Linked DNA regions of Homo sapiens: all the other regions are linked to region 1. Evidence: fine-mapped expression QTL. A gene starts in region 1. Each other region holds a variant in brackets. All regions are shown on one strand. Distances are between the middles of the regions. Region 1 holds the start of AGAP1 (ArfGAP with GTPase domain, ankyrin repeat and PH domain 1). Region 2 overlaps AGAP1 (ArfGAP with GTPase domain, ankyrin repeat and PH domain 1). Region 3 overlaps AGAP1 (ArfGAP with GTPase domain, ankyrin repeat and PH domain 1).

Region 1 (10,052 bases):
CTTTCTGGCCTCAGCAGTGCGTCTGTGTACAAGATCGCTGCAGGACGAACTGAGATGATGCACCTCAGACACTCCGCACTCTGTGGGACACACATGCTCAACAGAGCAGCTGTATCATGGGACAAAGTGGGGAACCCTGACCCATCTTCCCAGGTCCCCCAAACACTGGGGCTGAGATACTACTAAGGGGTCCTGGAATCTCCCTGTGGAAATGCCCTTAAGAAGTGCAGGGCAGGGTTCTCCTGCCAAGTGCCAGGCCAGTGGAGAGCCTGGGTTTCCTCTCATCGGCCACCTGGTGGGGATGGAGGCTTGTGGGCTGGATGAGGGCTCAACCTCAGAGGAAGGCCAACCTTCCCGGCGATGCGTGGGAACCTGGGAATCGGGCCGCCTGGCTGAATGAGCTGGCTGGGCTATCACTCACATCACGGTCCTGCTGCTGGCAAGCTGAATTACGATGTGTGACTGCTAAGAGAGGCTTTATCCTTGAAAGAAGAACAAGCTTTATTGAACAAGAAAGGCAGTTAATTCATCTACCTCAATGCCATCAACCCCCGATGGACTTTTCTAAGGAGAACCAGAGGGGAAACTAACACACGCTGTTCAGACTGGAGGCGAGATGGCTCTCAGGCTCATTTCTGGGCATGGTGGCTGCGGAGGCTCCAGAGACGACACAGCTGTGTGGCTACATTTCACAGCATGCCATGCCCCATAGGACATCCCAGAAACCTGATCAGATAAATCTGGAACAATCAGCAATGCTTCCTTAAACTCTAGTGATTTGGGGGTGAAGGGAGGGGGGAATAAACCTCTCAATGTACAAAACAAAAATTGGGGGAAAAAAACTGTTCTCTTCTGACAAGCTAGTGTTTTAAAACAAGACTGAGGGCAAAATCACCTGTATCCCATGCCTACAAACAGGATTACGGATGTGTTTTTATTTGGGAGCCTTGGTGGGCCTTTCAACTAAAATATGTTTAGTCCATCGTTAAGAGATTTTACAACCCAGACCCACCTCCACGCGCTCTGAAATAAGCATTAGCCAAAACATCCTTCCCCTGGACAAGGCTGCACCTCACTCCAACAGCAAAAATTCCTGAAGATGCCAGAAAACAGTGAAGTTTTGAGTAGGGTGCAGCCAAATGTGGGAATTTTGTGCCAACAAGAGAAACCCTATCTTCAAAAGCTCTTCATAACGTTAAGAAGTGCCCGGCCGGGCACGGTGGCTCACACCTGTAATCCCAGCACTTTGGGAGGCCAAGGTGGGTGGATCACGAGGTTAGGAGACGGAGACCATACCGGCTAACACAATGAAACCCCGTCTCTACTAAAAAAACAGAAAAAATTAGCCAGGCGAGGTGGTGGGCGCCTGTAGTCCCAGCTACTCGGGAGGCTGAGGCAGGAGAATGGCGTGAACCCGGGGCGGAGCCTGCAGTGAGCCGAGATTGCGCCGCTGCACTCCAGCCTGGGCGACAGAGCGAGACTCCGTCTCAAAACAAAAAAAGAAGTGCCCACATCACGGTAGTCCAGAAGCTTGGGAAGTCAGACCCCAATTCTGTGTATGCACATACAGAGGAAGGGGAAAAAATCCCTAGCTGGAAATCTTCTAAAATGTGGCCAGCTTTCTATTTGGTGGGACAAGTGACTTTTTGAGCCATTTGTTATGATGTGCACCTGCTGTCCTGATTGGAAACAGTTAGACTTTAAAACCTCCAAGGTGCACGCACAGGCAGGGGCAGCTCTCTGCCCCTGCAGGGAGCCCTCTGCAGTTACTGTGATGTTCCAGCGCAGGCTTAGTTGCCAGCACTGGGTTCCTGCCATCCACATGCAGTGTGGAGACAGAAACTCCATTCAAATGATCCCTTGGTTCAGATCAGACTTCAAACCACCTCAGTCAAATGTTAAGGAGGTCATTATCCCTCCCTGAACCTCCACCCGCTCCTCCATAAAATGAGGATGAGGAAGCTACCCACCCACCCTCACAGGGTTGGTGAAGCCACACAATGAGACTATACATGCAAAAATATTTCTGTTAAAGTTCTACAGAAATGAAAAGTGGTATCATTATTGATAACAGAAGAACATGCAAAGAACAGCAGCATGTCTGAGTGGTTCTTAAGCCTCACTAAATTAACTACAGCTCCACATAATGTAGACATCCCTATTTCTAAGAGAAAAATAACAGCATCACCCCAGTCCCAAACAGGATTCACCCAATGATTCTAAGCCTTATTAAAAATGACAAGGATCCCGGCCAAGAAGGGGCCTAAAATCTCAAATCGCAAAGGTAGGCATCGTGCTGTCAAAAAAAACCATCATCTAGGAACGACGCATTTTTTTTTTCTTTTAAGGGAGAAAGGAAAATGCAACCACATCCTCTTGCTAGAAAGTCAAACTGCTTTGCTGGAAGTGCTTGAGCCCCAGAGCTCAGCTTCAAGAATGGGAAATAAAAACGAGGTGTTGTGAACCCCACTCAGCCAGAGGTCTTCATGCAGCAAAAGAGGCTCTCAGCCAGGTGCCTTCAATACCTGACGCCGGCTTTCACAGTGTTTCATCAGACTTCTGTGGATGCAGCCAGAGAGCCAGGAAGAACCATCTGAAATGAGCACCGTGCAGCCTTCACAGCTCCCGTAACAGACGCAGAGCTGGAGCTCTGGAGGAACCTTGCTGCAACACCACCTGATCATCAGCAGATGGGTCCAGGTCCCACCGCCACTCATCACGAGTCATGCAGAGGCAGACAGAGCCCATCTCTTGAGGAATCCACAGAGCATCTTAAGTCACCAACAAGGCAGCCAGGTGACCTCATGGGAGACAGATACACACAAAGGGCTAGGACCCCATAAGGCTGGAGCTCCACCCGGATCCTCCCCTGGAATTAACAAGTCCCCCAAGGGTATAGTCTGCCAGTCATCCAGCCTGGCTGGGACATGGTTCAAGTCTACAGGGCTGCCAAATGCCAAGGGCTCAGCAACACAACATCCACTTTCTCCACCTAACTGGCCAAGTTTCAAACCAAAGCACTTCGGGGTTAGTAGTTCAGACTACATAGTGCCAAGGCAAAGCCTCTCTGTGGGCTGATACCCTCTCCCTCACAGAGGGAGGAGGCTGGGCAACGCCAGCACCAGGCTTTCAGGCACATTCCTGCCGGCTTTGGGCCATTCTCAATGTTCCTCAATAGAGGTCTTACCGGCCAGTCTGTATTATGGACAAGCCACTCTGCAGGCTTTTTACCATCACTGGCCAACAGCGCTGAGAAGGGAGAAAGTGCTGATCAACTGTGGCTAAGATATGACTCCACACTGTCCACGCACATGCCACCTGGTGCCCCAGGTGAGTCTTGGCCGGACCAAAGGGATGAAGCAAGAAAATAAATCAGCAGCCTGGAAACAGAGAAATGAGAGCCACCAGAAATCCAGAGGGCACAGCCCCGGAAGGCAGACTGCTGCTGTAGCTCTCCTGGAAGGCCATGGCCCTGCCTGACATGCAGAGGGAAGCGGGTGGGGATTCTGCCCAAGCATCCTGCCCCTCTTAAAACCACAGCACCCTCCACTTCAGTGGCCTCCAACTGCAGACATATGAAAGCGAGACCCTTCCGCTGGAGGACGCCCTGCCCTCCTGGTAGGGTTCTTCCTCTAATCCAACCCCGGACTTTTGGTTGGTACAAAGCACACTACCGGTTCCAGCGTTTGCACAGGGGCACCTGGACACGATGCTCCCGCGGCTAGGGCTGGCTCTCGGCATCCACTAAGTTCAACTGCACCCCTGAATTAAGCAAACACACTAAGGAGGGCAGCCCTGCACCGCCCAAACACGCCGGCCCGGGCCTCGCCCCCAGCGGCAGCACTTCTCAGAACACGTCTTCAACGTCCAGCAAGACGCCCAGGCCTGGCCTGGTAACCTGTCAGGGGTCGGGTGGCGCCGACCCCGCCGGCTGCCCCCAGGCGTCTGCTGGGCCGGGACGCTCCGGCAGCCCAGGACGCGGAGGCACCGAGCCACTTTCCCGCAGGAGAGACTCTATTGTCCACGATCAAATTAACGCTGACGATCTATCTTCCTGGCGGAGCTCGCGGCGCGGCGGGGCGCAGGCGACGCTCGCCCGGCCTTGCAAGACAAGCAGCGCCGCAGTGCTCCCTCGGCGGAGCAGCCGCGTGCCCCGGCCGGCGTGTGTGGACACCCGCACGCACACAGCGCACACCCCCGCCGCGCCGCGGGCGTCCGTGCCTTCCCGAGGCCCCAAGGCGGCCCGGCCCTCACCTTCGATGGCGATGACGTGCTCCCGGATCTGGTTCTGCAGCACCGGCTCCTCCACGCGCTCCAGCAGCTCGTAGATGGAGTAGATGTTGGGGTGGACCGACTCGAAGCGCTGGATCTCGGCCCGGATGGCAGCCGAGTTGGCCAGCTGCTGCTGGTAGTTCATGGTGCAGGCGCCGCGCCCGGAGCCGCGCGCCCCCCGCCGCCGCCGCCCCGCGCCCCGGGGCCCGCGGGCCGCCGAGCCCGGGGCGCCGCAGCCCCCGGGGAGCCGGGCCCGCCGGCGGCGGGCGGAGGAGGCGCGAGAAGAAAGGCGCGGGCGGAGCAGGCGCGGGGCTGGCCCGCGGGCTCAGTTCATGGCCGGGACGCGCGGCCGGCGAGCGAGCGGGCCCCGGCGTCCCGGGTCAGCGGGCCGCCCGGGGGGAGCGCGCCCCCATGGAGCGCGCCGCGGCGGGTGCGGCCGGCCCCGAAGGAGGCTTGCTCGGGTGACTTCCTGAGCCGCAGCCGCCTTCCAGCCCTAGGCGCTGCTCCGCGGAGCAGCCATTAAAGCCCAGGCAGCCGCCGCGCTCCGAGCGCCGGGGCCGAGGGCCGACCCCTGGGCAGTGTGGCCGCGCTGCTCTGGGCTCCTGGCCGTGGCGTGGGTCCGCGCGCTGCGTACTGCGCCGCCCGGCGCGCCGGGGCCCCCGCGCGAGCCCGCCGTGCGCCGCCCGCCGACCTGGGACCGAGTCGCAGGCGCCTTGCAAGCCGCGGAGCCCGCTCCGAGCGCCGCCCGCCGCCTGCCCGGCCGGCCCCCTCCCTGGCACGCAGGGCTCCGGCCCACGTCGGCCCCGCCCCCGCCTTCGCCCTCGCCCGCGCCCGCGCCCGCGCCCCGCCTGCCCGCGCGCTTGCCGCCCTCCGGCCGCCGGCGCTGCGTCCTCCTCGGCGCTTCCCAGCGCGCCGGATCCCGGGGAATTGCGCCAGGCCCCGCCCCGCGCCTGCCTCTGGGCTTCCTGGGACTTGTAGTCCGCGCCCCCGGCGGGCCGGGCCAGGGGGGTGCGCGGGGTGTTCACACTGGGCCGGGGTGCGGGACCCTCCCGCCGGCCAGGCCCCGCGCCTGCCAGCTCCTGCCCGGGTTCTCGCGGCGGCCCCCGCGCCCCGGCACGGGGGAGGCTGCCCGGGAGTTCGCCCGCCGCGTTGTTGTTTGTTTCCAAGCGGCTGGCTCCAGGAGCCTCTGCGACTCGCCAGTGTCCCACGGCCTCGCTTGGTTGGCGAGCCTCCCCTTCCCGCGTTTGGTAACTTTCTGCCTCCTTTCTCAAAGTAGCACACGTGCTTTCCCTTAATACATGCGATTTCTTTCCAAAGGCGAAGCGCCTCCTGAGCCCATGCGGCGTGGGGGTCCACACTCCACGAGTGGACTGAAGTTTAGACAGGGGTGCGAGATGCGACAAAATACCACAGAGGCTTTCGAGGCATCCTTCTCCCTTACAATTTTTAAAAATCGAGCCGTGGATCTCAAGCTGCTGCCTCCTGAGCGCCGCTGCCTGCTCCACGGGGTTCCTTAGCCCCTGGACCGTCTGTCCCACCGCAATCCCCGATTTAGGTCATCCCCGGGGACCCCCCGCGGAGCTGGGACCGCACTGCAGCAGCGCTTGGAAGGCTCGTCTCGCCGCTTTGAGGCAAATGGGACCCTTCAGATTTGCGGAAGCACTGGCTGCCGGGCGGTCCCACAAGGTCCTGGATTGAGGACACTGGCTGAGTCCCTGCCCCCAGCCATCGGCGTGGTCTTTCTGAAACTCAGCCAGCCGGGCCGGCATCCCCGTTTAAAGCCTGCTGAGCCTTCACCGGCTCACATGCAGTTTGCTATGGCCTAAGCACCCTGGTATCCAGCCGTGTTGGCTTACTGGCTGGGCTCCACAACTTCCCAAAGATGTGCTGACATTTTTACCATTCCGGACCTGCTTGTCTTCTCCTTGACACTTAGGCACAGGTCATCACTCCATGCCTCGGGCTGTCCACGCATAAGTAACTCTAGTAACCAAGAGGCAGGCATGTGGCCTCACCAAACCTGACCTATCAGCAGCAGCTGATCACTTGCGCTCCTGGAAACCCCTTCTCCCAGTGCTCACCAGGGCTTCCTGCTGTGTTTCTGGCTTCACTGTCCCTTTTGTGGTTTTCTTCTACTCCCCTAACCTCTAAATATGGAGGGCCCCAGGGCTTATGGTTAGGCCTCTTTTCTTTGCTATTTGCTGTGATCGCCCCTGTCTTATGGCTTTGAATATCATACACAGGTTAATGAAGCTCATATGTATCTCCAGCTGTGACCTCACCCCTGAATAACAAATTCACATCCACCTGCATCCTCAACATTTCCTGAAGCCTAGCTGGTGTTTAAGTCCAGCATGTCGCCAGCTGAACTCCTGCCATCCCTTCCGGCTACATCTCCTAAAAATCTTCTCCATCCCAGTCATCGGCAACTCCAGGCCACCATTTGCTTAGGCGAAAAATTCAGTGCTGTCCTTTTTGCTTATCATTCTCTCATATCCCAAATGGTGTCAGCTCCACCTTCAGAGGATCCAGAATCCCACGACTTCTCACCACTCGGCTGAAGTCAGGATCATCTAGCTGGACCATCACTAGATCTAACAATTGTAATAGCTCACTGCTTCCTACCTGGTGAAACTTACAAAACCTACGTCCGGACTTGTCATGCCTTTTCTCAAAACCCTCCAATGACTCCCATCTGGCCTCGCCCCACAGGCATGAGCTCTTATCAAGAGCTGCTCAGGGGCTGAGCTATTCCCCTACTTGTAAGCTAACAAGTTAGCCTGCCACAATTCATGGATGCTGGCAGAAGACATGAGACTCCCAGATCAGAAACAAAGGACTTTGTTATTCATAATAGTAGCATTAGCTGGAATATCAGCATTTTCATGCACCAGTTTACTGAGACCCAATTCCCACGGGCAACATGAGGCCCAGGTGAAGCCTGTACTTGGAGTCAGCTGCCCTATACGAGTTTTATAAGTTTTTAACCCTTAGCTTAGAGAGCTCAGATCTTTCATACGGGCAGTAAGTGTGTCTGCCCTTCACTCCAGAGGGAGACACTGTTTTTATCATGGACAGTAAGCATGTCTACCCTTGACTGTGGCAGAAAACATTATCTCTGTCTTCCAAGGCTGTTTGCTCTGCAAACATCCTTGAGAATATAGTCCAGAGCAAAGGCGCCTGGTGTCTCTACCTGTGTACCTGTGTTACCCAGCAAGGGCTGCCATAAAAACCTTCCACAGGCCTGGCATGATGCCTCATGCCTATAATCCAACACTTTGGGAGGATTGCTTGAGCCCAGGAGTTCGAGACCAGCCTGGGCAACATGGTGAAACCCCATCTCTACAAAAAATACAACAATTAGCCAGGCACAGTGGTGTGAGCCTCTAGTCCCAGCTACTCCGGAGGCTGTGCAGGGAGGATGGCTTGAGCCCAGGAGGTCAAGGTTGCAGTAAGCTGTGATCATACCACGGCACTCTAGCCTGGAGGACAGAGCAAGACCATCTCAAAAAAAAAAAGGCCGGGCGTGGTGTCTTACGCCTGTAATCCCAGCACTTCGGGAGGCCGAGGCAGGCGGATCACGAGGTCAGGAGATCGAGATCATCCTGGCTAACATGGTGAAACCCCGTCTCTACTAAAAATACAAAAAAATCAGCCGGGTGCAGTGGCGGGTGCCTGTAGTCCCAGCTACTCGGTAGGCTGAGGCAGGAGAATGGCGTGAACCCGAGAGGTGGAGGTGGAGCTTGCAGTGAGCCAAGATCGTGCCACTGCACTCCAGCCTGGGTGACAGAGGGAGACTCCTTCTCAAAAAAACAAAACAAAACAAACACACAAAAAAAACTTCCACAGGCTGCATGGCTTTAACAGAAATCCATTTTCTCAAAATGCAGGAGGCTCAAAGAGCCAAGATCAAGCTGTTGCAGGGTTGGTTTCCCCTTGGCTTGTGGATGCTGCCTTCTCACTGTGTTCTCACAGGGTCTTTCCTCTGTGTGTCTGTGTCCCCATCTCCCCTTCTTAGAAGAACTCCATTCATATTGGATTAGACCCCTTCCTAATGACATCGTCTTAGCTTAGTCATCTCTTTCAAGGTCCAATTTCTGAATATAGTCATATTCTGGGGTACTGGGAGTTAGGACTTTAATATATGAATTTTGGGGACATAATTCAGCCTATGACTGTCTCTCTCGCCACAGCATCTCTACTTCTAGCCTGTTCTCTCCTCTTCGGCCACACTGGCCTCCTTGTTGCCCCCTAAATATACCCATCACACCCCCACCCTTGTCATCTGCTTCTCTGTCTCCCTGACCCCTTCACCAGGACTTTTGTTTCCTTATGTATTTGCTCCAAAGCCACCTTCTCAATGCGACTTTCCCTAACATCTTCTCTAAAATGGCATCCCTGTTCCCCAACACTTCATGTCCCCCTTCCTTGCCACAGTAGAAAGAATAATGGTCCCCTAAGATGCCCACATCCTAATCCCTGAAACAAGTAGATATGTTAGTCTAAGTGGCAAAGGACTTTACAGGTCTGATTAAATTAAGGACCTTGAGATGAAGATATTATCCCAGATTATCTGAGTGGGCCCAGTGTAATCACAGGAGGCCTTATACGAGGAAGGCAGGAGGGTCAGAATCAGAGGAGATATGATGACAGGTGTAAGAGAGAGAGAGAGGAGAGGAAGGCAAGGGAGAGAGAGAGATTGGAAGATGCCGCTGGGCTGACTTTGAAGATGCAGGAGGGGGCCACCAGCCAGGGAATGTGGGCTGCCTCTACAAACTGGAAAATGGAAGAAAACAGATTCTCTCCTAGAGATTCCAGAAGGATCACATCCCTATTGACCCATTTTTGGACTTCTGACCTCCAGAACTATAAGATAATAAATTTTTGTCATTTAAGCCACTAAATCTGTGCTAATTTGTTATAGCAGCAATGGGAGATTAATGCACTTGCTTTATGTTTTTCTTAGCACTTATTCCCGTCTAACTCACCATATACTTTAGTTATTTATCTTGTGTATGGTTTGTGTCCCCCATTAAAACATAAGCTCCACAAGGGCCAGGATTAATTTTTGTCTGTTTTGCTCCCCATTCTATTCCAGTGTCTATAACAGTAGCTGACACATAGTAGCTACCCAATAAATGTTTGGCAAACAAACAGCTTCCCCATTAAATTATAATTGTCATGAAGACAAGGACCATATTTCTCTTGCACAGGGCTTGGAGCATTATAATGCAACAAACGTTCAATAAATTAATTAATCAACAATATCTCTCCTATGGTAAGAGCTGTTCTCTCATCATGCCAGGCACATAGTAGGTGCCTAATAAAGATTTGCTGAATTAAAATGGAAGTTTCTCCAGCAACATGGGACCCAGTGACATTTACCAGGAATGTGCTGCAGATTTATCTTCTGTGAATAGAGCCAAGAATTCTAGCCGTGTGTGTGTGTGTGTGTGTGTGTGTGTGTGTGTGTGTGTGTGTGTGTGAGACGGTCCTTCCAGGCACTTATAAGCTCTGAGTGAAAACTCCACTGTGAGAGCAAGCCAAGCCTTAAAGTAGTGAACGTCTTCTGTCCCAGAAATATCAAAGATGGTTTGAATGATCAGCCCATTCATTTGTTCATTTATTCTGTCACTTATTTATTCATTCAACAAATCTGTATTGATCATCTACTGTATCCTAGGCAGGGTGATATGTTCTAGGGATACAGAGGTGAAAGATGAAGCTTGCCTTTAGTGAGCTTGCATTCCAGGGGATTATCTCTTGAAGAAACACTGCTT
Region 2 (10,052 bases), 260 kb before region 1:
TCCGGCTCCTGGGTTCAATCGATTCTCCTGCCTCAGCCTCCCGAGTAGGTGGGATTACAGGCATGCACCATTACACCCGGCTAATTTTTTGCTTTTAGTAGAGATGGGGTTTCACCATGTTGGCCAGGCTGGTCTTGAACTCCCGACCTCAGGTGATCCACCCACCTCGGCCTCCCAAAGTGCTGGGATTACAGGCATGAGCCACTGTGCGCCCGGCCTATGTCCATATTCCCTAAGGAAAAAAAAATTATAAAAAACTTCAAAATAACTGGAAAACATCAGCTACAGATTATAACAACTTCTGACTATCCTAGTTAAGTAATATTCTCTTATTCTTTTGATCATCGATTCCATGGAGGGTTAACTAGGTCAAAAAGTACATCACTACTTAATCATTTTAAAAACATTAGAAAGAGCAGAATGCCGTGGCATTATGAACAGATTATGAACAAAAATAAAAGCCATTTGTATGCATTAATGATACATCACGCTAATTCAAGCTGGCTCAAGTCATTAGAGAGAAGTCCTGGGGCAAAACACAGCTATGATACCGCAGTGCAGAGAAGTATTAAAATAACCATTTTCTATGTCATTGATAAAATTAATTCTATGAGCAAAAGAGATGAGTCTTAACATGAAAATCAAAATAGAGAACATTTACTAATAGTGTGTTTAATGATCTAATGTTGGCAGTGTGAGAGTTAATTCAGGCATTTCTCTGCACACGTATGAGCATCTGTGCACACTTAACGTTTCTAGTAAGAGAAGCACAGCAGGAAAAATCCCAGACTTAGGGTAAGAAATTGCCAGAAGAGATCACAGGCTCTATTAACACAATATTCTGCAACATCACTAAATAACAATTTATTTATTGTCTCTGGTTGTTTGCAGCATCAACCTTAAGATTTTAAGATAATTTCTTCCTGTTATTTCTGAAAGAATCAAAATTCCTTTCCTTATAGGTTCCTTGGGTGTCACTCTATCATGTTTCATACTTGACCCCATATTGCTAAGGCCAGCAGGTGCCATCTGTAGCGTATGGAGCACAATGATAATTAAGATATTCCCTCCCCCACCTAAACATTTTCATATTAAATGGCTGGTGTTAAGCAAATCAAGCGATAGACTGAGAGAGAATCCTTTAAAAGTTGGGCTGCTGGGAGTGGTGGCTAACGCCTATAATCCCATCACACTTTGGAAGGCTGAGACAGGAGGATCACTTGAGACCAGGAGCTGGAGACTGGATTTGGCAATACATCGAGACCCTCATCTCTACAAAAATTTTGAAAAATGACCTGGGCATGGTGGCATGCACCAGTAGCGCTAGCTACTCAGGAGACTGAGGTAGGAGGATGGCTTGAGCCCAAGAGTCTGAAACTGCAGTGAGCTATGATGGCATCACTGTACTCCAGCCTGTGTGACAGATCGAGATCCTGTCTCAATTAAGAAATAATAATAAAAAGAAAGGGCAACTCTAAACAAGAAACAAGCTGATTTCATACTTCTAAGATGAAATAATTGAAATAATATTCAAAAACACTTGGATGATTTAAGGATAATCACCTCAAGCACATTCTCAAATTACTCCTGAAAATGTCTGGTGTAGCTTCATAACGAATTCTATCTTACACATTTGTATTTATTTTGTTTTTGGTTTTGTTTTTTGAGACGGAGTCTCGCTCTGTCGCCCAGGCTGGAGTGCAGTGGCGTGATCTCAGCTCACTGCAACCTCCGCCTCCCGGGTTCAAGAGATTCTCCCTCCTCAGCCTCCCGAGTAGCCGGGACTACAGGCACACGCCACCATGCCTGGCTAATTTTTGTATTTTTAGAGAGGGGGGTTTCGGCATGTTGGCCAGGCTGGTCTCAAACTCTTGACCTCAGGTAATTCGCCTGCCTCAGCCTCCCAAAGTGCTTAGATTACAGCTGTGAACCTCTGCGCCCAGCCCATCTTCTGTATTTGTATTTACCGAGTGAATATGGAAGATTTTTGTCTCAGTTGATGTGCCAGAAGCTTCTCTCATCAGTAAAACATGTGCTTTTATAGCTTCATGAGGGTAAGAATTTTTCAACCCAAACTAATTTTTTTCTAAAAATAGTAACTCAAAAGTATTTTTCATTTTGTTGGATTTTTTTAAACCTCTGAATGTATGGTTTACTATACAAAAAGCTTTATTTTAGTTTTGGTATTAATTTGCTATTTCAGTTTATAATTTAACCCTGTTGTAGAAAGAGCTTCTTTGGTTAAGAACTGAATTCGAAAATGCATATGAAGAAAGGAGTTGACAATGTCATGTTTCATAAAAATGATCACCATCAAACATTTATGTATTTTCCCATCCAAATATAAACCAGGGATATGGCATAAGAGAAAGACCCACACAAACCCACCAAGGCTTCTTCCTCACATGTGCGCCCCCACCAACAGGCTGAATCAAGTCTCCTTACAGTCAACAGCAGGTCTGCACCTCTCCCATTCGCTGGGAGATAAGCTACTAGGCAGGTCAGATGTGGCTCTTCTGGAGACCATCTGCAGATTCTCACATGCACTGGATGGCCCTACATGTGAAGCTGCCAGGGCCGGGCGCGGTGGCTCACGCCTGTAATCCCAGCACTTTGGGAGGCCAAGGCGGGCGGATCACGAGGTCAGGAGATCAAGACCATCCTGGCTAACACGGTGAAAGCCCGTCTCTACTAAAAATACAAAAAAATTAGCCGGGCGTGGTGGCAGGCGCCTGTAGTCCCAGCTACTTGGGAGGCTGAAGCAGGAGAATGGTGTGAACCCAGGAGGTGGAGCTTGCAGTGAGCTGAGATCACACCACTGCAGTCCAGCCTGGGTGACAGAGCGAGACTCCATCTCAAAAAAAAAAAAAAAAAAAAAAGAATGACATCAACAACCCTAGGGCTAACGACACCAGAATGTCTCCCAAACCAGCATCAAACCCCCTTATATGACCGGGTGCCATGGCTCATGCCTGTAATCCCAGCACTTTGGGAGGCTGAGGCGGTCGGATCGCTTTGAGCTCAGGAGTTCGAGACTAGGCTGGGCAACATGGCAAAACCCCATTTCTACTAAAAATACAAAAACTAGCTGGGTGTGCTGGCACGCACCTGTAATCCCAGCAACTTGGGAGGCTGGGGCGGGAGGACGGCTTGAGCCCAGAAGGCAGAGGTTGCAGTGAACCAAGATTGTGTCACTGCACTCCAGCTTGTGTGACAGTGAGACATTGTCTCAAAACAAAACAAAAACAACACGCCTTACGTGACTTGATCATTTAACTCTTGAAGAATGTTTTCTGCTCAGCCCCCAACCCCCATTTGTATTGGTACCGCATAAGTGCTGCCAGAGCCTTACAGAGGTCACTTTCTTCATGTCATCTTTGTTCTCAGAAAATGTTCAAATATGAACCCCCTTAATGAAGTGTAATTTAAGCAGCTGAACCTCTTTCATACTGTCCCAATACACATCTACCACCCATCTGTCCCAGGAAGTCTTAGAAATAAGACTTTCAATGTGTGGAGGGGGTGAGGGTGTAGAGACGGGGACAGTGATGAGTACAGGTGCACAGCCAAGACCACAGGTAGAAACGGGAAATGATGGCCTCGCCTGACACCAGCTGCACCATGTACCTCTGGGAAGGCAGCATTTCCAACAATGTAGTCCCAGCTGTAAACTGGGCCTAATAAGATCCACTATCCTACATCATAAGCCGTTAAATTGTTGCATAATTATTAGTCATTACTACAAGTGATTAAAAAATGGACAATTAATGACCCATTAATCCACCTTTTCAACATATATCAAGTGCCTAATGTACACATATACATGGCTTGCTTTCAAGTGTAAAAAATCTTATTTTTTGAAGTATTCCCTCGCTAACACACATATACACACACACATGCACGCATGCACACACACACTAGTTCCAATCTAATCTGTAATAAAGGAGAAAAAAATAGCAACAAAAACAAATCATAAAACAGGCCACCCCGACAATGAAAATTAAGCTGATTTCAGGAAAGAATGGAATAGGCTTAACTGATACATCCTTTAACAGCACAAGGACTGTGGTGTGAGCAAAACAAAATGGTCCAAGATGATGCAGGACCCAGGAGAAGAGGCCCAGAAGACTGCTTACATTCACAGATGCTCTAGTGCGTGCAATTAGGTTGCACAAACGGACTCATTAACATAGCTCCCCTGGTTCTGGACACTCCTGTAATTAGGACCAGGCAGCTGCAGCCATTTAATGTGAGATGGGGTTCTTTGCACACACCAGGATTTCAATCTCTGGAAGCAAAGCATCAAGAGCACACCGAGGCTCCCTGACTTCCCGCACAACCTTGGTAAAAATCATGCAACCTCTCCCAGCTCGGGCTCTCGGCATGGGTTAGATAGGCCCAGGTGAGCCGTTACTGGGAAGGGACAAAAGACAAATGGAATGGCTTCTATAAAAGTGCTTTCCAGAATGTTAACTGCAGCACAAACATAAAAAGCCAGGGGCAATGAGGTCAAAGGACTGACATGGATCTGCCTAGACCAGGAACTACTCTACCAGATAAACACCCATCCACCAGGACGATGTACACAGCGTGTGAACAGAGGAAGCCCTAATAAGCCACAAGGCTGTGGCCACACTAGCACCTGGCACACAGAGCCCGGGAGCACTAGCACCTGGCACACAGGGCCCGGGAGCGCTAGCACCTGGCACACAGCGCCCTTCCAGTGCCACTGCCCAGCTTTCCCATACACCTAGAACCTACTGTCTCTCCCTCCACAATAATGCAGATCTGTTCTAGGACAGAAGTCTATGTGAGATCACCAAACTGGCCCTGGAGACCGTTAAGCAGAGAGATGATAATTTGTAATTTATCTCTTTGACATGGATCTTGACCTGGTCTAACAACTACTATCAAAGTTCTGCATGTAGGTTTTCCTATGGTCATATGAATACAAGCTTAAGACGCTGACGTTTTGGTGGGGAGCACGTCCTAGCACAGTGCAGATCATATATCTAATGTGATGTTCTGAACTGGGATTTAACAAGTGACTAGAAGGTTCAGAAAATGCATGCAAGAATATTAAATTCTATATAGCAGCAGTCCCCAACCTTTTTGGCACCAAGGACTGGTTTCATGGAAGACAATTTTTCTGAGGATCAGGGGTTGGGGGGCAGGTGGGGGATGGGGATGGTTTTGGGATGAAACGGTTCCACCTCAGCTCGTCAGGCATTAGAGTCTCCTAAGGAATGCGTAACCTAGATCTCACGCATGCACAGTTCACAACAGGGCTCGTGCTCCTAGGAGAATCTAAGGCTGCTGCTGATCCGACAGGAGGCGGAGCTCGGGGAGTAATGCTCACTTGCAAGCTGCTCACCTCCTGTGCAGCCTGACTGGGGACCCCTGCTGTATACAAAAC[A/G]TGCTGGGATGCAAATAAACAATCCATGCATAAAACCACACTGTGGACCACTCACGTACATCTTTATCAGCTCATTCTAGGAGAGGGGGAGTGAAGAGAGAAAGGGCATCGAGCTGCTTGGAGAAGAAATGAAAACAATTCTTTGTACCACTATCAGGTTGTACTCCTGATTGCCTATGAAAGGGAAACCCCTCTTTCTTTAGGAATCAGGGGCCTTTAAAATCCCACATGCCATACAGCTACCACAAAGACACCATAATTTAACAATCATAAACTATGCCCAATAAAAGTTAGGGTGCATTGGCTCAAGAATGTCAAAACCAACAAAAAAACCCTGATCCTGTCTCCCCGATTGAACAGATGCCACAACACAGGCCCCTGTGTTCCTCTGTGGCACCGCCACCCGCAGCAGAGAAAGCTCCGAACACGCTACTCAGGAAGACGAGAAACTCAAAGCATTTGAAGACAGGCTAAAATTTACACTCTCCAAAACCTAACTGCAGGGAACGACAGTGCTGAATGCACCATCTCCAAGAATATACAGGCAGAGCCCGCTCTCCACTCTCTTCCTCCCAAGGTGCACGTGTAATGCTCAAAGGGGCCCTGTTGCTACCTATACACAGCTTGCTACCACCTTGAACATGACTTGGCCTTCTGAAGGGAGGATTTATTTTTGTCACTAAGTTATAACTATTTTAGGTGACCTTTCAGCATGTAGGCTGAAAAATCCCATCACCAAAACTATACCCTTCCTGACCTTCCGGAGACCTGACTACAGTCCCATGTCAGACACACACTCTGTCTGTCCAGAAGAGCTGCTTGCTGCCACTCAGAAAGCTGCTTCTTCATATGAAGTGGGAAAAATGTCTCTTTAAAGAAGAATCGCAAGCTGGGTGCAGTGTGTCATGCCTGCAATCCCAGCACTTTGGAAGGCCGAGGCCAGAGGATCACTTGAGGCCAGGATTTCAAGACCAGCCTAGCCAACATGGCAAAAACCAGTCTCTACTAAATAGCCAAAAAGTAGCTGGGCATGATGGCGCACACCTGTAATCCCAGCTACTCAGGAGGCAGAGGCAGGAGAACTGCTTGAACCCGGGAGGTAGAGGCTGTAGTGAGTCTAGATCGTGCCACTGCACTCCAACCTGGGTGACAGAGACCCTGCCTCGAAAAAAGGGAAGGGGAAGGGGAGGGATCGTAGGACCAGAGGAACAATGTCTACATGGAATGAACTTTATTTTTCTGTAATCCTTCATGTTCATGTATCCAGGCCCTAGGAGAACAAATCAACAGGGACTTTTGAAAAATTTAATGCCAAACACTGAAATCACCATTTTAACTTTAAAAATAGAAAAACTTGTATATAGGTTATTTCCCAGTTGCAGGAAGAGGCAAACAGAGCCATGCAGAATCTGACAGGCACAGAGCCGCTGGCTGTGAAGCAATCTAGGAACGAGAGCCCTGTGCAGTCCCTGCAGACGGACCTGCAGCCCCCAGCTGCCAAGTCCGCACATCCAGCCCGCCCCAGCCCCCAGTGCCTCCCTTCCCCAGGGCTCTGCTGAGAATCCAAACGGTTGGGTACCCACAGCCCACGTCCGGCTCAGCTGCCCAGGTCAAGCAGAAACCATCTTGTGGAACCAGCTCACCCAGCCCCGCAAGCCACACAAACTCGCCTGTGAGCAGGAGCGAGAACGCTCCACCCCCAGAAAGCAGCCTGGGCTGCCACACTTCTTTTCCACCCCTGAGCAAGACACAAGGTCATGTTTCTGGGTGACCGTTTGATGTTTACCCTCCCTAGTGGACCTTAACTTCACGGAGGAAGGGACCCTGCCTGCGCTTCCCAATCTGCCTCTAGCCCCTGACCAGACGCACAGTGTGTGGGAAGCTGGTGCTCAGATGAACGAGTGACTGGGTGGATGAACCAGCCTGCTAGGCTGCTTCCCAACACCTACAGCCACTTGCCAGTAGCCATCTGGAAACTCCATGAAAGCAAAGTAAACAGGACCACACAAGCGAACAAAAAGTGAATGCAAGGTTTCTCCATTCATTTTTACAATGTCCTTTTGTTACAAGACACTAAGAAGTCAAATGTTGGAGAAGAAAGAATGAGGTCCCTGGCCTTTTAAATGAACCTCGGTACAGAGCCAATCAGGAACATGGCCTCCGCAGGGCAATGGAAGCAGCTGGATTTTTTTTTTTTTTTTATTTACAAGCCAAACATTATGTAGAAATTACACGCTTTTCCTTTATGTTTTCTTTCTACCATATACAGGTATAAAAAGTAAATAAACAAAGTAAGCCCTAGGGCAAAAAAGAAGCCAGAGAGTTATCAAGAAATGTGAATAAACTGAGTCGGCGAGCAGGCAGGGGCCCTGCTGGCTGGGTGCATCCCCTGCAAGGCCCTCCCCAGACCTGTGGGCAAAGCTGGTGTGTTCTTAAGGCCCCAGGACCTGATTTGCTTCCATTTTAATGACAAAATGTCCCGGTGCTGTGGTTAAGTCGAGGCTCTCAGGTCCCAAGATGGGGGATCCAGTCCAGGCTGTGTCCCTTTGGGTCAAGCTATGTCATTTCTCTGAGCCTCAATTTCTTCAACTTTATATAAACCTTACAATGTTTAACTTTCCTTGAGGATTTTTACTTTGTTATTAAGGATTGCTAAGTACTGAATAAAGCTCCTACTCAGCAACTACTTTTCTCACTAACAATGAGAGTGTTTGTGATTTACATGAAAATACATATACAAATAAGAAACCATATACCATATAACTATGATATAAAATATACAAAGTAACTGATTTTATTTTAAAAATGTTATCTTCATATGAAAATATTTTAAGGACAAAAAAATCGCAATAGTCACGGAAGTTGTAGCTTCACAGGTATTTGCTTTTCAAATTCCATAAAATCCTACTTTTTTTTTTTTTTGAGACAGAGTCTCGCTCTGTCACCCAGGATGGAGCGCAATTGTGCAATCTCAGCTGACTGCAACCTCCGCCTCCCAGGTTCAAGCGATTCTCCTGCCTTGGCTTCCTGAGTAGCTGGGATTACAGGTGCCTGCCACCATGCCCGGCTAATTTTTTGCAATTTTAGTAGAGATGGGATTTCGCCATGGTGGCCAGGCTGGTCTCGAACTATGGACCTCAGGTGATCTGCCCTCCTCAGCCTCCCAAAGTGTTGGGATTACAGGCCTGAGCCACTGCGCCCAGCCAAAATCCGAATACATAATGAGAGTGTATTATTTCTATAATACGAAACTGGAACGGAAATCTCCTGTGCCCATGAAAACGGACACTCATCACAGCATCACCTGGGGAGGTGCGACATGAGCTGTCACAGTAACGGAAACGCTTTTTCTGAATATTTTAAACTAATATTTAGAAATATCAGTCCTTATTCTCCTCTTGCCACCCCCAACCTGAAGAAAACGAAATGCTTCCAACACAGAGGTGGGTGGCTGCCTGTCCTCTGCCTTGAACGTGCTGGGTGTGGTATGGAACTCAACCCAAATTCTTATACTGAAATCCTGACCCCCAGGGGAATAAGAGGTGGGGCCTCTGCCAGGTGACTGATCACAAGGGTGGAACCCTGTGATGGGTTAAGTGCCTTTATGGGAAGGGACTGGCGAGGGCTTGTGTCCTCTGTTCTCCACTATGCAAACACATATCCCACTAGGAGGATGGCCCTCAGCAGACACCACACCCACCAGCACCTGGCCCTGGACTCCCATCCTCCGTAAGTAGGACAAGTAAAAGTCTGTTGTATAAGCCACTGGGTCTTGTTAGAGCAGCCAGAACGTACAAAGGCTGTTTGGCAGGAAGGCAGCATCATCCTGACAACCCCCAGTATTCATTAATTGACAACATTATTTTTATAAGAAGCACTCATCAATTTATGGAAAACTCATGTATGTTAACCGTGATAAATACAAAAGCAAAGGAGTCACTGTGGAAACTAAACTTATCCAGACAACTGAGTCCCTGATATCCTGCATCGGGGACCGGCAAGCTCTCTGCACGGGGCCAGAGAGTGAATATTCTGGGCTTCTCAGGCCGCAAAGACCCTCATCTCTGCTGTCACAGCTGGAGAGGGGCCCAAACCCGCTGCAGCCCATCGACACAAAGCGTGGCTCTGCGTCATGAAAAGTCTATTTACAGCCAGGCGCGGTGGCTCATGCCTATAATCCTAGCACTTTGGGAGGCCAAGGTGGGCAGATTGCCTGGGCTCAGGAGTTTGAGACCAACTTGGGCAACATGGTGAAAATCCCATCTCTACTAAAATGCAAAAAATTAGCCAGGTGTGGCAGCGTGTACCTGTAATTCCAGCTACTGGGGAGGCTGAGGCACAAGATTTGCCTGAACCTGGGAGGCAGAGGTTGCAGTGAGCTGCCATCACGCCATTGCACTCCAGCCTGGGCAAAGAGCTAGACTCTGTCTCCAAAAAAAAGAAGAAAAGTCTATTTATGAAAACAGGCAGCTGGCCTCATGCACGGGCCTGGGGACCCTTCATCTACGACGCTTTACTTCAACATTCACAGGGGCCTCGGCAGCGCAGCGGCCGACAGTGACCTTGCTCCATTAGGGTGCACCTCTCAGAAGAGCTCTAAGGGCCTCCCTGCACAGTTCTTCCAAGTCTCACTAAC
Region 3 (10,052 bases), 85 kb before region 1:
CCTCCCAAAGTGCTGGGATTACAGGCATGAGCCACCACACCAAACCTCTGAGACCCTATCTTTACCAAAAAAAAAAAAAAAAAAAAATTAGCCAGGTATGGTGGTGCATGCTTGTGGTCCCAGTTACACGAGAGGCTGAGTATGAGGCTGAGTATGCTCTCTTCCTATCAGGCCAACAACCACCGGCCTGAAGCAGCCGCATAGGTTCAAATGAGTTTCTCTGGTAAGATCACCATGGCTGGGGTTATATGGCAGTGAGACCAACGCAGGCAGGGGACCCGCACCTGACCCTGGCCCACTTGGAGTTACCCCAGAGTTACATGAGAGGCTGAGTAAGAGGATCATTTAAGACCAAGGTTCAAGGCCGCAGTAAGACATGTTTATGGCTGCTGCACTCTGGCCTGGGTAACAGAGTGAGACTTGGTCTAAAAACAAAAGCAAACAAAACAGGTTCTTACATTAAAACCCTGAGTTTACATTAAAACCCAGGCAGAGGACCCACACCTGACCCTGGCCCACTTGGAGGTGCCCCAGAGCCCCTGGCTTCTGGCTTTTCCCTTTATGAGTCAAGGACAAATGAAGTTTATTCTAGAAAATGCAGCTGGTCTGAAAGTGGCCAGTTTACTAGGGAACTATTTCAACTTTAACACACAGGGGTCCTTGGCAGGTTCCGAGCCAAATCCCAACAACATAAAATGAGTGGAAAGCAGCCTTACAAGCTTCCTCCCGATTCCGGAACACACTCCATCAAAGGCTCACCAAAATCCTTGCCAGTGCTGCCTCCTGGAGTCGGTCAGTGCTAGAAAGCACTTTAGGAAATGCAGCATAAGGCTGTGATGCCGGGAGGCTAGGACGTGGGACTCAAGTGCCAACTCCTGCTAACAGCAATGAGAGCCCAAGAAGGACCACGAGCCCCCTCTCTCTGACTTCTCCCAGGCTCCTTCGGCCATCACTCCAGCAGCTAAATCCTTCCTTCTGAAGTACACTCCGTGCTTTTGTTGTAAAACACTTTTAAGAAATATTTATAGGTCCTCCCCCAAAGAATCCTTCTTTTATATCTGAGAAGCTCAAAATGTGGCATCCCTTTAATCTCAAGGCACCAAACCTCAACACATAATTACACGCATGACCAACCAACCCCACGATCTGACTCAAGAGGGCTTCATCAATGCAATGAGCTCCCATGATGTCTAAGGGGACACCCATGCTTCTCAATGAGGCATTTAGGGCAAGTCGCTTCTACACTGTGTGGCTCCTGTCCAGCACACTGCAAAGGACAAGCAATCCTGGTCTTGGGCTTTAGTGACACCCTAAATGCCAGCACAAAGAGCCACACCACCTCGGCAGGCAGCACCACGCAGCGGGGTAGAAAGACTCAGCACACTCCTGGACCTGCCAAAGGTCAGGCTCAAGCTGGGGCAAGAATGGGTCAAAACCACAATCATGCGCTCCAGGGCTCACATCTGGTGACCAGGGGCCACCACTAGGATCCAGGGGTCTCTGCTCCTCGTATAGAGCAGACAGCCCCATAGCATCACTATCAACTCCTGCCTGCTGCAATCACGTCTTCCCTGGATGGAAGGAACATTTCATGTCTCCTAAAGACTGCGTTAATATGTTGGGTTGCTGAAGGACATCAACACTCAGGCCTTAAGAATTTCCTGGGGTGAACACAGAATAATAAAACCTCCCCGGGTGCTAATTCAACAATCATAGTCCAGTTTTCTTCTTCCAGGTTTCAATTTTTGACACCAATCATTGTGATGTTTGAGAATGTCCCCGTGACTGCAGGATCTCCATGGTAACCTTGTTATTTTCTTTCTTTCTTTTTTTTTGAAGATGGAATCTCGCTCTGTTGCCCAGGCTGGAGTGCAGTAGCACGATCTCGGCTCACTGCAACCTCCACTTTCCGGGTTCAAGCAATTCTCTGCCTCAGCCTCTTGAGTAGCTGGGATTACAGGCATGCACCACTACACCCGGCTAATTTTTTGTATTTTAGCAGAGACGGAATTTCACCACGTTGCCCAGGCTGGTCTTGAACTCCTGAGTTCAGGCAATCTGCCTGCTTTGGCCTCCCAAAGTGTGGGATTACAGGCATGAGCCACTGTACCCAGCCTATTTTCTTTTTAAATGGCCTCCTGGAATATATTTCCACCAGTTTCACACTCAATCCATTAAAAAAAAAAAAAAAAGAACAATATAAACAATCTTCTTCATGATTGAATTCTTAAAAAGCTGGGGACAAAGACCAAGCTGGAAGTCCTGCACCTCCACTGAACAGTGTGCAACCTCCAAGTCTCCATCTCTTTCACCCTCCATCTTTTTTTTTTTTTGAGACGGAGTTTCGCTCTTGTCACCCAGGCTAGAGAGCAATGGCATGATCTCAGCTCACTGTAACCTCTGCCTCCCAGGTTCAAGTGATTCTCCTGCCTCAGCCTCCCAAGTAGCTGGGATTACAGGCACCTACCACCATGCCCGGCATTTTTTTTTTTTTTTTTTTTTTTTTGCTTGAGATGGGGTTTCACCATGTTGGCCAGGCTAGTCTCGAACTCCTGACCTCAGGTGATCCACCGACCTATGCCTCCCAAAGCAGTCTCTGTTTCTTAAAAAGCCTCCACTCCACACCTCACGGGATTACTGTAAGGATCAGAGTGTGCAATAATATACACAAAAGTGCTTTGTAAACTGTCAAGCCATGTGGTAAACACAGCAGTCACAAGTTATTCACCATACAAGGAGCAGGGCCACATTACACCCTAAGGTCGAGAGCAAGAACCCACTGCTCAGAGACAGGATGATCACCTCTCATGCCAGGTCAGATAACATCCTCTCTAGATTTTTTTCTCTTTCCACCTTGAACTCAAGCTGTGTGATTTCATTCACTGTTGCAATTGCTGACTGTCATCTAAGTGCCACTGTCAAAACATTAGAGGCCAAAGAAGTCAAAAAGAACTAAACACAAAAAGATAGCTATCAGCAGGTAACAAAACCATTCTCAATAAACTCAGCTTCAAGAACTCCTGTACATGAAAATGCCCATAGTCAGGCACAAGTAGCTGTTTTTTCATATGTTAATGTCATTTATTCTAAGAGAGAAGCACTCTCAGATACACTCGACTCTACCTCTAGAAGACACTAGAATGGTGGAGTAGAAAGCGCACCCTCCCCAACCCTCCCTCCCCCACTGCCTCCAACAAGCACCGAGGGAAAAGCCAGCACTGCCACTGTGAAGGAGATGCAAGAAAATGAAGAAATCAACCCGACAAAATGTAAGCGGCCGGCACGTCTTCATTCTCACCACTAATGATGGGGAGAACAGTATGGCGGTTCTTCTCAAAGTCAAATACAATTACCTTTCCAAGCAACCACTCAGCTCCTAAGGATATACTCCAAAGAGGTGAAAATGGCAACTCAAGCAAATCCCTGTACACGCACGTTCATAGCTGCATGGTTCCCTGTAGCCAAAAGATGGACACAAACGCCCATCAACAGATGAATGAATAAACAAAATGTGGTCCCTCCATACAATGAAATATCATTCAGCTGTAGAAAGAAATGAGGCACCAATGCATGCTACCACCCTCGATGAATCTCAAAAACATTATATTAAGGGAAAGAACCCAGTCACAGAAGGCCACATGTTGTATGGTTCTGTTTATATGAAATGTCCAGAATGGGCAAACCCACAGAAACAGAAGACTGGCGGTCGTCAGGTGCTAGGGAGAGGGGGAAATGGGCAATGACTGCTGAAGAACATGGGGTTTCCCCTGGGCGGGGGTGATGAAATTGTTTTGGAACTAGACGGGTGGGTGGTTACACCATGTGGTGCATACGCTAAGTAAGTGTTCACTTTTTTTTTTTTTTTGAGATGGAGTCTCGCTCTGTTGCCCAGGCTGGAGTGCAGTGGTGCCATCTCCACTCACTGCAAGCTCCTCCTCCTGGGTTCACGCCATTCTCCTGTGTCAGCCTCCCGAGTAGCTGGGACTACAGGTGCCCACCACCACGCCCGGCTAATTTCTTTGTATTTTTAGTAGAGACGGGGTTTCACTGTGTTAGCCAGGATGGTCTCGATCTCCTGACCTCGTGATCTGCCCGCCTAGGCCTCCCAAAGTGCTGGGATTACAGGTGTGAGCCACCACGCCTGGCCAAGTGTTCACTTTTAAATGCTTAACTTTATGTTATGTAAATTTTGCCTCAATATTTTTTAACGACAACAACAAAAGAGCCAAGTCGCCCCCTGGGATTGCAACCCACAGCTGTATTGATCATGCCCAAATAAGGTTTGTTTTGTTTTAACAAAAAGGCTGGAGACCTCAG[G/A]GCATGGGAAGGACAGTGAAAGGTTACGTCACACCAGGAAGGATTAAAGCAAAAGTGTCGCCTGGTAAACTGAGCCCGGCTCTGCAGAAGCCAGCTGGGCATAAATAGAACTGCCTTTCATTTCTGAAGCCCTCAGTGGGCAGGGGCTGACACAGTGCGCCCTTATACGAAAGTTTTACGACAGTAAACCAGCCACAAAAATGAGCGCTCCACTGTGACACAAGCTGGGGAAGGCTGCTTCATGGTGATAATTTGGTTTCCTGGTTTTCTTTCCAAGATGATTCAACTGGGTACCTTTTAACTTTAGCCAGTAATAAGAAAACCCTTAATTCTTCTAAGACTTAGACTAGCAAAGAGAAAGAAACAGAAGTAATTCAAATTACATATCTATATCCGTCTGTGTGACTGACAGCTAGAGGGACAGGCAGATAGGTAGACAAAGGTAAAATTTTGACCCTCAACAGTGAAAAACTATTGGGCTATACACAAATGTTTATTTAAATAGCTTATTGTAAAAAAAAAATTTTTTTTTTTTTTTTGAGACTGAGTCTCGCTGTATTGCCCAGGCTGGAGTGCAGTGGCACAATGTCGGCTTACTGCAACCTCCGCCTCCTGGGTTCAAGCAATTCTCCTGCCTCAGCCTCCCAAGTAGCTGGGATTACAGGTGCACACCACCACATCCAGCTAATTTTTTTGTATTTTTAGTAGAGACGAGGTTTCACCATGTTGCCCAGGCTGGTCTCAAACTCCTGACCTCAAGTGATCCGCCTGCCTCAGCCTCCCAAAGTGCTGGGGTGGCATAAGCCACTGCGTCCAGTCTGTAATTTTTTAAACTGTGGCAAAATACACACAAAATGCATCATTCTACCCACTTTTAAGTGTGCAGCTCAGTGGCACTAAGTACATTCACACTGGCACATGCTTACCATCATTTTTAAAGGTCTTAATCATGTCACTGACTTCTCCCAGGACACCTGGGGGCAGGTAAGGGGAACAGGCATTGTGGTTCTTAGGTTGTAGTTTGAGGAGAGGTCAGGTCCTTGTCAACAAAGGTGTGGGGGCACAGTGCAGGTAGGAGACGGGCACCGTGGAGCTCAGGCTGGCTCTGACAGTGGCAGTTTCATGACATGGGGGGCTCAGCTCCAACCTTGGTGGCCAAGTCCTTTATAGCTCTACTGGTCAATGGTGGTCCCAGAACTGAGGCTCGCCCTGGAACTCTTGTCTCTGCTCCCAATCACGCTCGGACCCTCAGACCAGCAGGCAGGATAACAGTGGTACCCAGCTCCTCACGAGGGGAAGTCCTGATGGCGGGACCAGCACACGCAGGCACCTGGATGGTGTCGGGTGCGATCCAGACCCCCTGTGCAGACACTGCTCCCTTGTCTGCATCAGGAGCCTCAACAAACAGCCCCGCTCAGACCAGGCTCAGTGTTTGGTTTTTTTCATCCGTACAAAGGCGAACTATCAGGTCCCAGCGAGCAGACATGGGCCTTTTGTGCAGCGCTGAAGGAGGGATTACATTTCAGGAATAGCAAACCTACTCTCTCTCCCGGGGGAGGCCAGCAGACAAGCCTGTGTTGAATGCACTTTTTGTTTACTGGCTCAATCAGCCAAGCCTTCGAGGGGATGACGACACACACGTTCCACTCGGCGAATGTTCCGAATGCTCAGAGTTAACTGCCCAAACAAAAATAACCGGGGGAAGAACCATGTAGTCAGGCAGCCACACAGCCATGCTCCGGGCAGCAAGGGACTCTCAGCTCCCACCGACTCCAGCAAGCGACCAGGGACACAGGAGCTTCCGATCATTTCCAAACAAACACAGGACTCTGCTCCAAGCAGGCATTCAGCGAGAGGCAGTGTCTCATCTGGCAAAGGCTTTGGGCAGAAGGTCAAGAGAATGGGGTTTTAATCAAAACCCTAAGGCCGTGGTGCCCAATACAGTAGCTCCAGCCACAGGTGCTACTGAGCACTAAAATGTGGCCGAATTGAAATGTGCGATGAATGAACATTACACAGCACCACCCAAAGCATCAGTACCAAACAGGATTATAGCAAACCTCGTCCACAAATTCCAGATAATTGCAATGAAAGGATAATATTTTGGATATGTTGGATTAAACAGTTTATTAAAATTAATTTCATCTGTTTCTTTTATTTTTTCTAATGTAGCTAGTAGAAAACTTTAAATGACGTATGTGGCTGGCATTCTACTTCCACTGGACAGAGGTACAAGGGGGTTCAGGAAGGCCTGATATTTCAGGACAACAGAAATGCTTTTCTTGGTGAAGATGCAGAGGTAGAGTTTGGCATTTGGGGTATGGAGGGAAGATGGATACCTGTGGAAGGAGGGGAAGAAGCAGAACTGGCCAGAGAGAGGCTGAACTGCCAGGCAAACCTGAGGCCATCTCGCCAACCCAACAGGGAGCAATGGAGAGGCCATTAGAATTGTCCCATGATGGGTCCAGATGGCCCCACCTTTCTGCCCTTCACACCCTGGAAGAACAGTCACGGGAAGAGGGTCTGACAGGATGTACCCTTACGCTGGGCATCTCTCCATGAGGAGCTGCAGCTAATGATGCTCCCAGCAGCAGGGGCGACAGTCCTCCCTCAGAGGGGGCCCAGGCCAAGGCATCCCCCTCCTCTCTAGAGTTCCACCTTCTTGCCTGCGGGACTCGAACCTGCCCTCAACGGCCCCTGAGGTTCTAGCAGCCTTTAGGGCACAGCACGACCACTTGGGAACACTGCAGTCAACCAATACCTGCAACAAAGTTCTTAAAACCAGCTGCAGTGAGTCACCTCATTAAAATCAGGCAATGCTTCCAGCACACGGAGAGGAGATATTCCCCAAGCACCACCTGCCTGGTGACCAGAATATACCATACTCGTCAAACTTCAGGGGAAACAGCAAATGAGGACACAGCGCACTGAGAAGCACGTGCTGAGTACAACACACACAAAAATAATCAATGCATTAGCTTCTAGTGAACCAGGTTAACAACTTCTGGCCCCCAAACACTTTTATAGAAAAGACTGGAGAGTAAAACGAATATGGTGACTGACAAACTGGACAAAGACTCATAGCACAGAGGCGACCAAAGCCCCTATCCTACCTTTGCCACTGGGGAACCTGAGGCCCAGGGTTGCGCCAGGTATGGACCCAGCCTCCTGCCTGGTGCCCTCCCAGCCTGGTGGCTCCTCCTGTTGCAACCGGGCTCTGGGGAGCGACAAATCACCCACAGTTGGTCTCTGCCACACAGCGGCTTATCACAGGCTGTGCACGGACAGTGACACCCAGAGAGGCTTAGGTCCCTAGGACAAGGGAAAGGTATCCAAGAAGTTATGTGAGGGGACAACACGTCTCATAAAAATGCCACTTTTTTTTCACATCATCTTCTTTTGAAAACAGAACAGAAGGGAATGTCTTATCTGATGTCGACAGCAGACAATTCAATGGAGACAGACTTCCCTCCCCAATCTCAGTAAAGAGGTGGTTATTTTACGGAAAGAAAAAGGACACCAGAAACAGAAGAAAGACACATCTCCATTTACTTGAAAAGAAAAAAGCTGAAAAGAACCTTTGCAATAAAAAAGTGTTATAATTTTAGGCATGCAAACCTGTGCGTTCACACCTTTCCCTACGGCAGCCCTTTCTCCCAGGTTCCAGGAGTAGAGCCCAGGGCGCATGTCTGAGTTTGTCTCTGGATACTAGTGTCAAACACCTGGCCACCCGTGAGCACAGCTCACGGAGGAGGCAGAGCAACAGGACAAACGGGTATCTGAAGATATCATTCAACAGCCTAGAATCACACTGGTCCTTAAAGGAGAAAGCCTTCCAGTTTCCTCGGCTCAGCTTTTCCCAAACTTCATGCACCACCTTTGTGGCTTCTGCCACATTCAAAGACCACCTAAACTATCACCTACTTCAACTCTCTTCAACTTTAAATTCTTTCAAATCTTAAGTTTATCCTAAGTATTAATATTTATGAACTCACACCTTTGGTGTCTTTTTAATACACATTAAAACATATACAAATAATCAACAAACATGACATGTAATTTAGGAATTTTGGAAACACTCATCATATCAAGCTACATTTTGTACAACTATTGAGCAGCTGGAAAAATAGCCACAAATCCAACCACCATCTCTTTATTCTCAATGTCACCTTTTTTTTTGGTTTGTTGTTTTTGTTTTTTCGAGACAGGATCTCACTCTGTCACCCAGGCTGGAGTGCAGTGGTACGATCGTGGCTCACTGCACCCTCAACTTCCCAAGCTCCAGCGATCATCCCACCTCAGCCTCCCATGTACCTGGGACCATAGGTGTCTGCCTCCATGCCTCGCTGATTTTTGTATGTTTGGAAGAGTCAGGGCTTTGCCATGTTGCCTAGGCTGGTGTCGAACTCCTGAGCTCAAGTGATCCATTTGCCTCGGCCTCCCTAAGTGCTAGAATTACACGCGTGCTCCACTGCGCCCAGCCTCAACAAAGTTTAGATTCTAAACCAAAGGTCTCAGAAAATATTCAAAATTAGTTATTTGGTCTTGTGTGATTTTCTTTCTTTTATTTTTCTCGTTCATTCCCTCCTGGTGTACTTGGTCCATTATTCCTCTTAATACAGTCTCTTTAAAAAGCAAAAGACCTTCCTTTTAGGGGTCAAATGCACATGACTATTCATTAACTGTCGCACAGAACCAAAAAGGACCTAAAAGAACACTGCTTGACTTTTTGAACAGCCTGGTAAAAACTATCAAATCAAGGAAACCAAAGACTTCAGTGGTGGGAAGTGTTTAAAGAGATTTAAAGGTATAATCTGATCACAGCTATTAAAAGAGAAACTACACTGCCAAAAAGGGCTCTTCCCAGTGGCTGAGATTTACTTTATCAGATAATGCACCTTCACTAATTACATTTCGTTATACAGTTTATGCATTTAGCAAAGAAGAAAAAATGCTTCACACATACAATTAAATCAATCCATTGAGGCCTTTCCCTTAAGGTAAGGGAACATTTTCAGCTTTTCTGTTCGGAAGATTTTAATGCCTGATGGCAGGAGTGGGGGTGGATCTCAGAGGCGTTTTTAGGATGATTATCCAAACAACCTGAAAGAGTCCGTCCAGGCCCAGATGCTTCAGGTGCCAGAATGCAGTCACAGCTGAATGCCCAGCTGGGCCTGAGTGCTGCTAATGAAGCTGATGACAACTTTTAGGTGATGTCCCTGCAGGCTGTGGACCTCAGATAGGACAGGCCCCAAGGCACCCAGGCCCTGCCTCCCTGACCAGCTAACAGTCAGGGTCTGGTGAAGCCAGTGGGCTCCTGGCCAACACAGGAAGGGAGGGGTCAATAAAAAGGTTGTGCGACAGCAGGGGAAAGCTGAACAGAATGCCAACCCGCTGGGAGGCTCTGCCAGGAGCCAGCCCCAGCCATGAATACACGGGGTCTCCAGCCTCTCAGCTGGCCAGGCTCAGCACTGGGGTGAGGCAAGCATTTGGATTTAGGAATGCACATTCCATGTGGTAACAGCTATCCTGACCAGCCACCCCTGACCTGACTCTCCAGATGAGCCGGGGCACACCTGCCAAGCCCACCTGCTGGTGATGGGGCGCACTCATGGGGCGCACTCATGCCGTTTGCAGAGACCAGAATTCTGTCCTCCAGTGTCAGCAGTGTTGTTGCCACACTTTCTTCCATACGCTTCCTTCTAACTATTATCACATCACTTAAATATCACACA

Evidence for each region. PIP is the estimated chance that this variant, and not a neighbour inherited with it, causes the effect.
Region 2: its variant is the best candidate, but not a certain one, in a credible set for the expression of AGAP1 in skeletal muscle (GTEx, PIP 0.82).
Region 3: its variant is the best candidate, but not a certain one, in a credible set for the expression of AGAP1 in lung (TOPMed, PIP 0.57).

Annotation. Positions count from the first base shown.
Region 1 is chr2:235,489,052-235,499,103 of GRCh38, reverse strand. AGAP1 (ArfGAP with GTPase domain, ankyrin repeat and PH domain 1) reads right to left here and starts at 5,061. Exons shown (of 18, transcript NM_001037131.3): 1 at 4,255-5,061. The coding sequence starts at 4,417. RefSeq lists an enhancer at 2,934-3,807.
Region 2 is chr2:235,751,992-235,762,043 of GRCh38, reverse strand. All of the region lies in intron 6 of AGAP1 (ArfGAP with GTPase domain, ankyrin repeat and PH domain 1), which reads right to left. All of the region lies in intron 3 of LOC105373942 (a long non-coding RNA gene), which reads left to right. Among named protein-coding and RNA genes, the nearest start is that of TNRC17, 240 kb to the right of the region's middle. The variant A/G (reference allele first, on the strand shown) is at 5,417.
Region 3 is chr2:235,573,589-235,583,640 of GRCh38, reverse strand. All of the region lies in intron 1 of AGAP1 (ArfGAP with GTPase domain, ankyrin repeat and PH domain 1), which reads right to left. Among named protein-coding and RNA genes, the nearest start is that of TNRC17, 61 kb to the right of the region's middle. The variant G/A (reference allele first, on the strand shown) is at 4,318.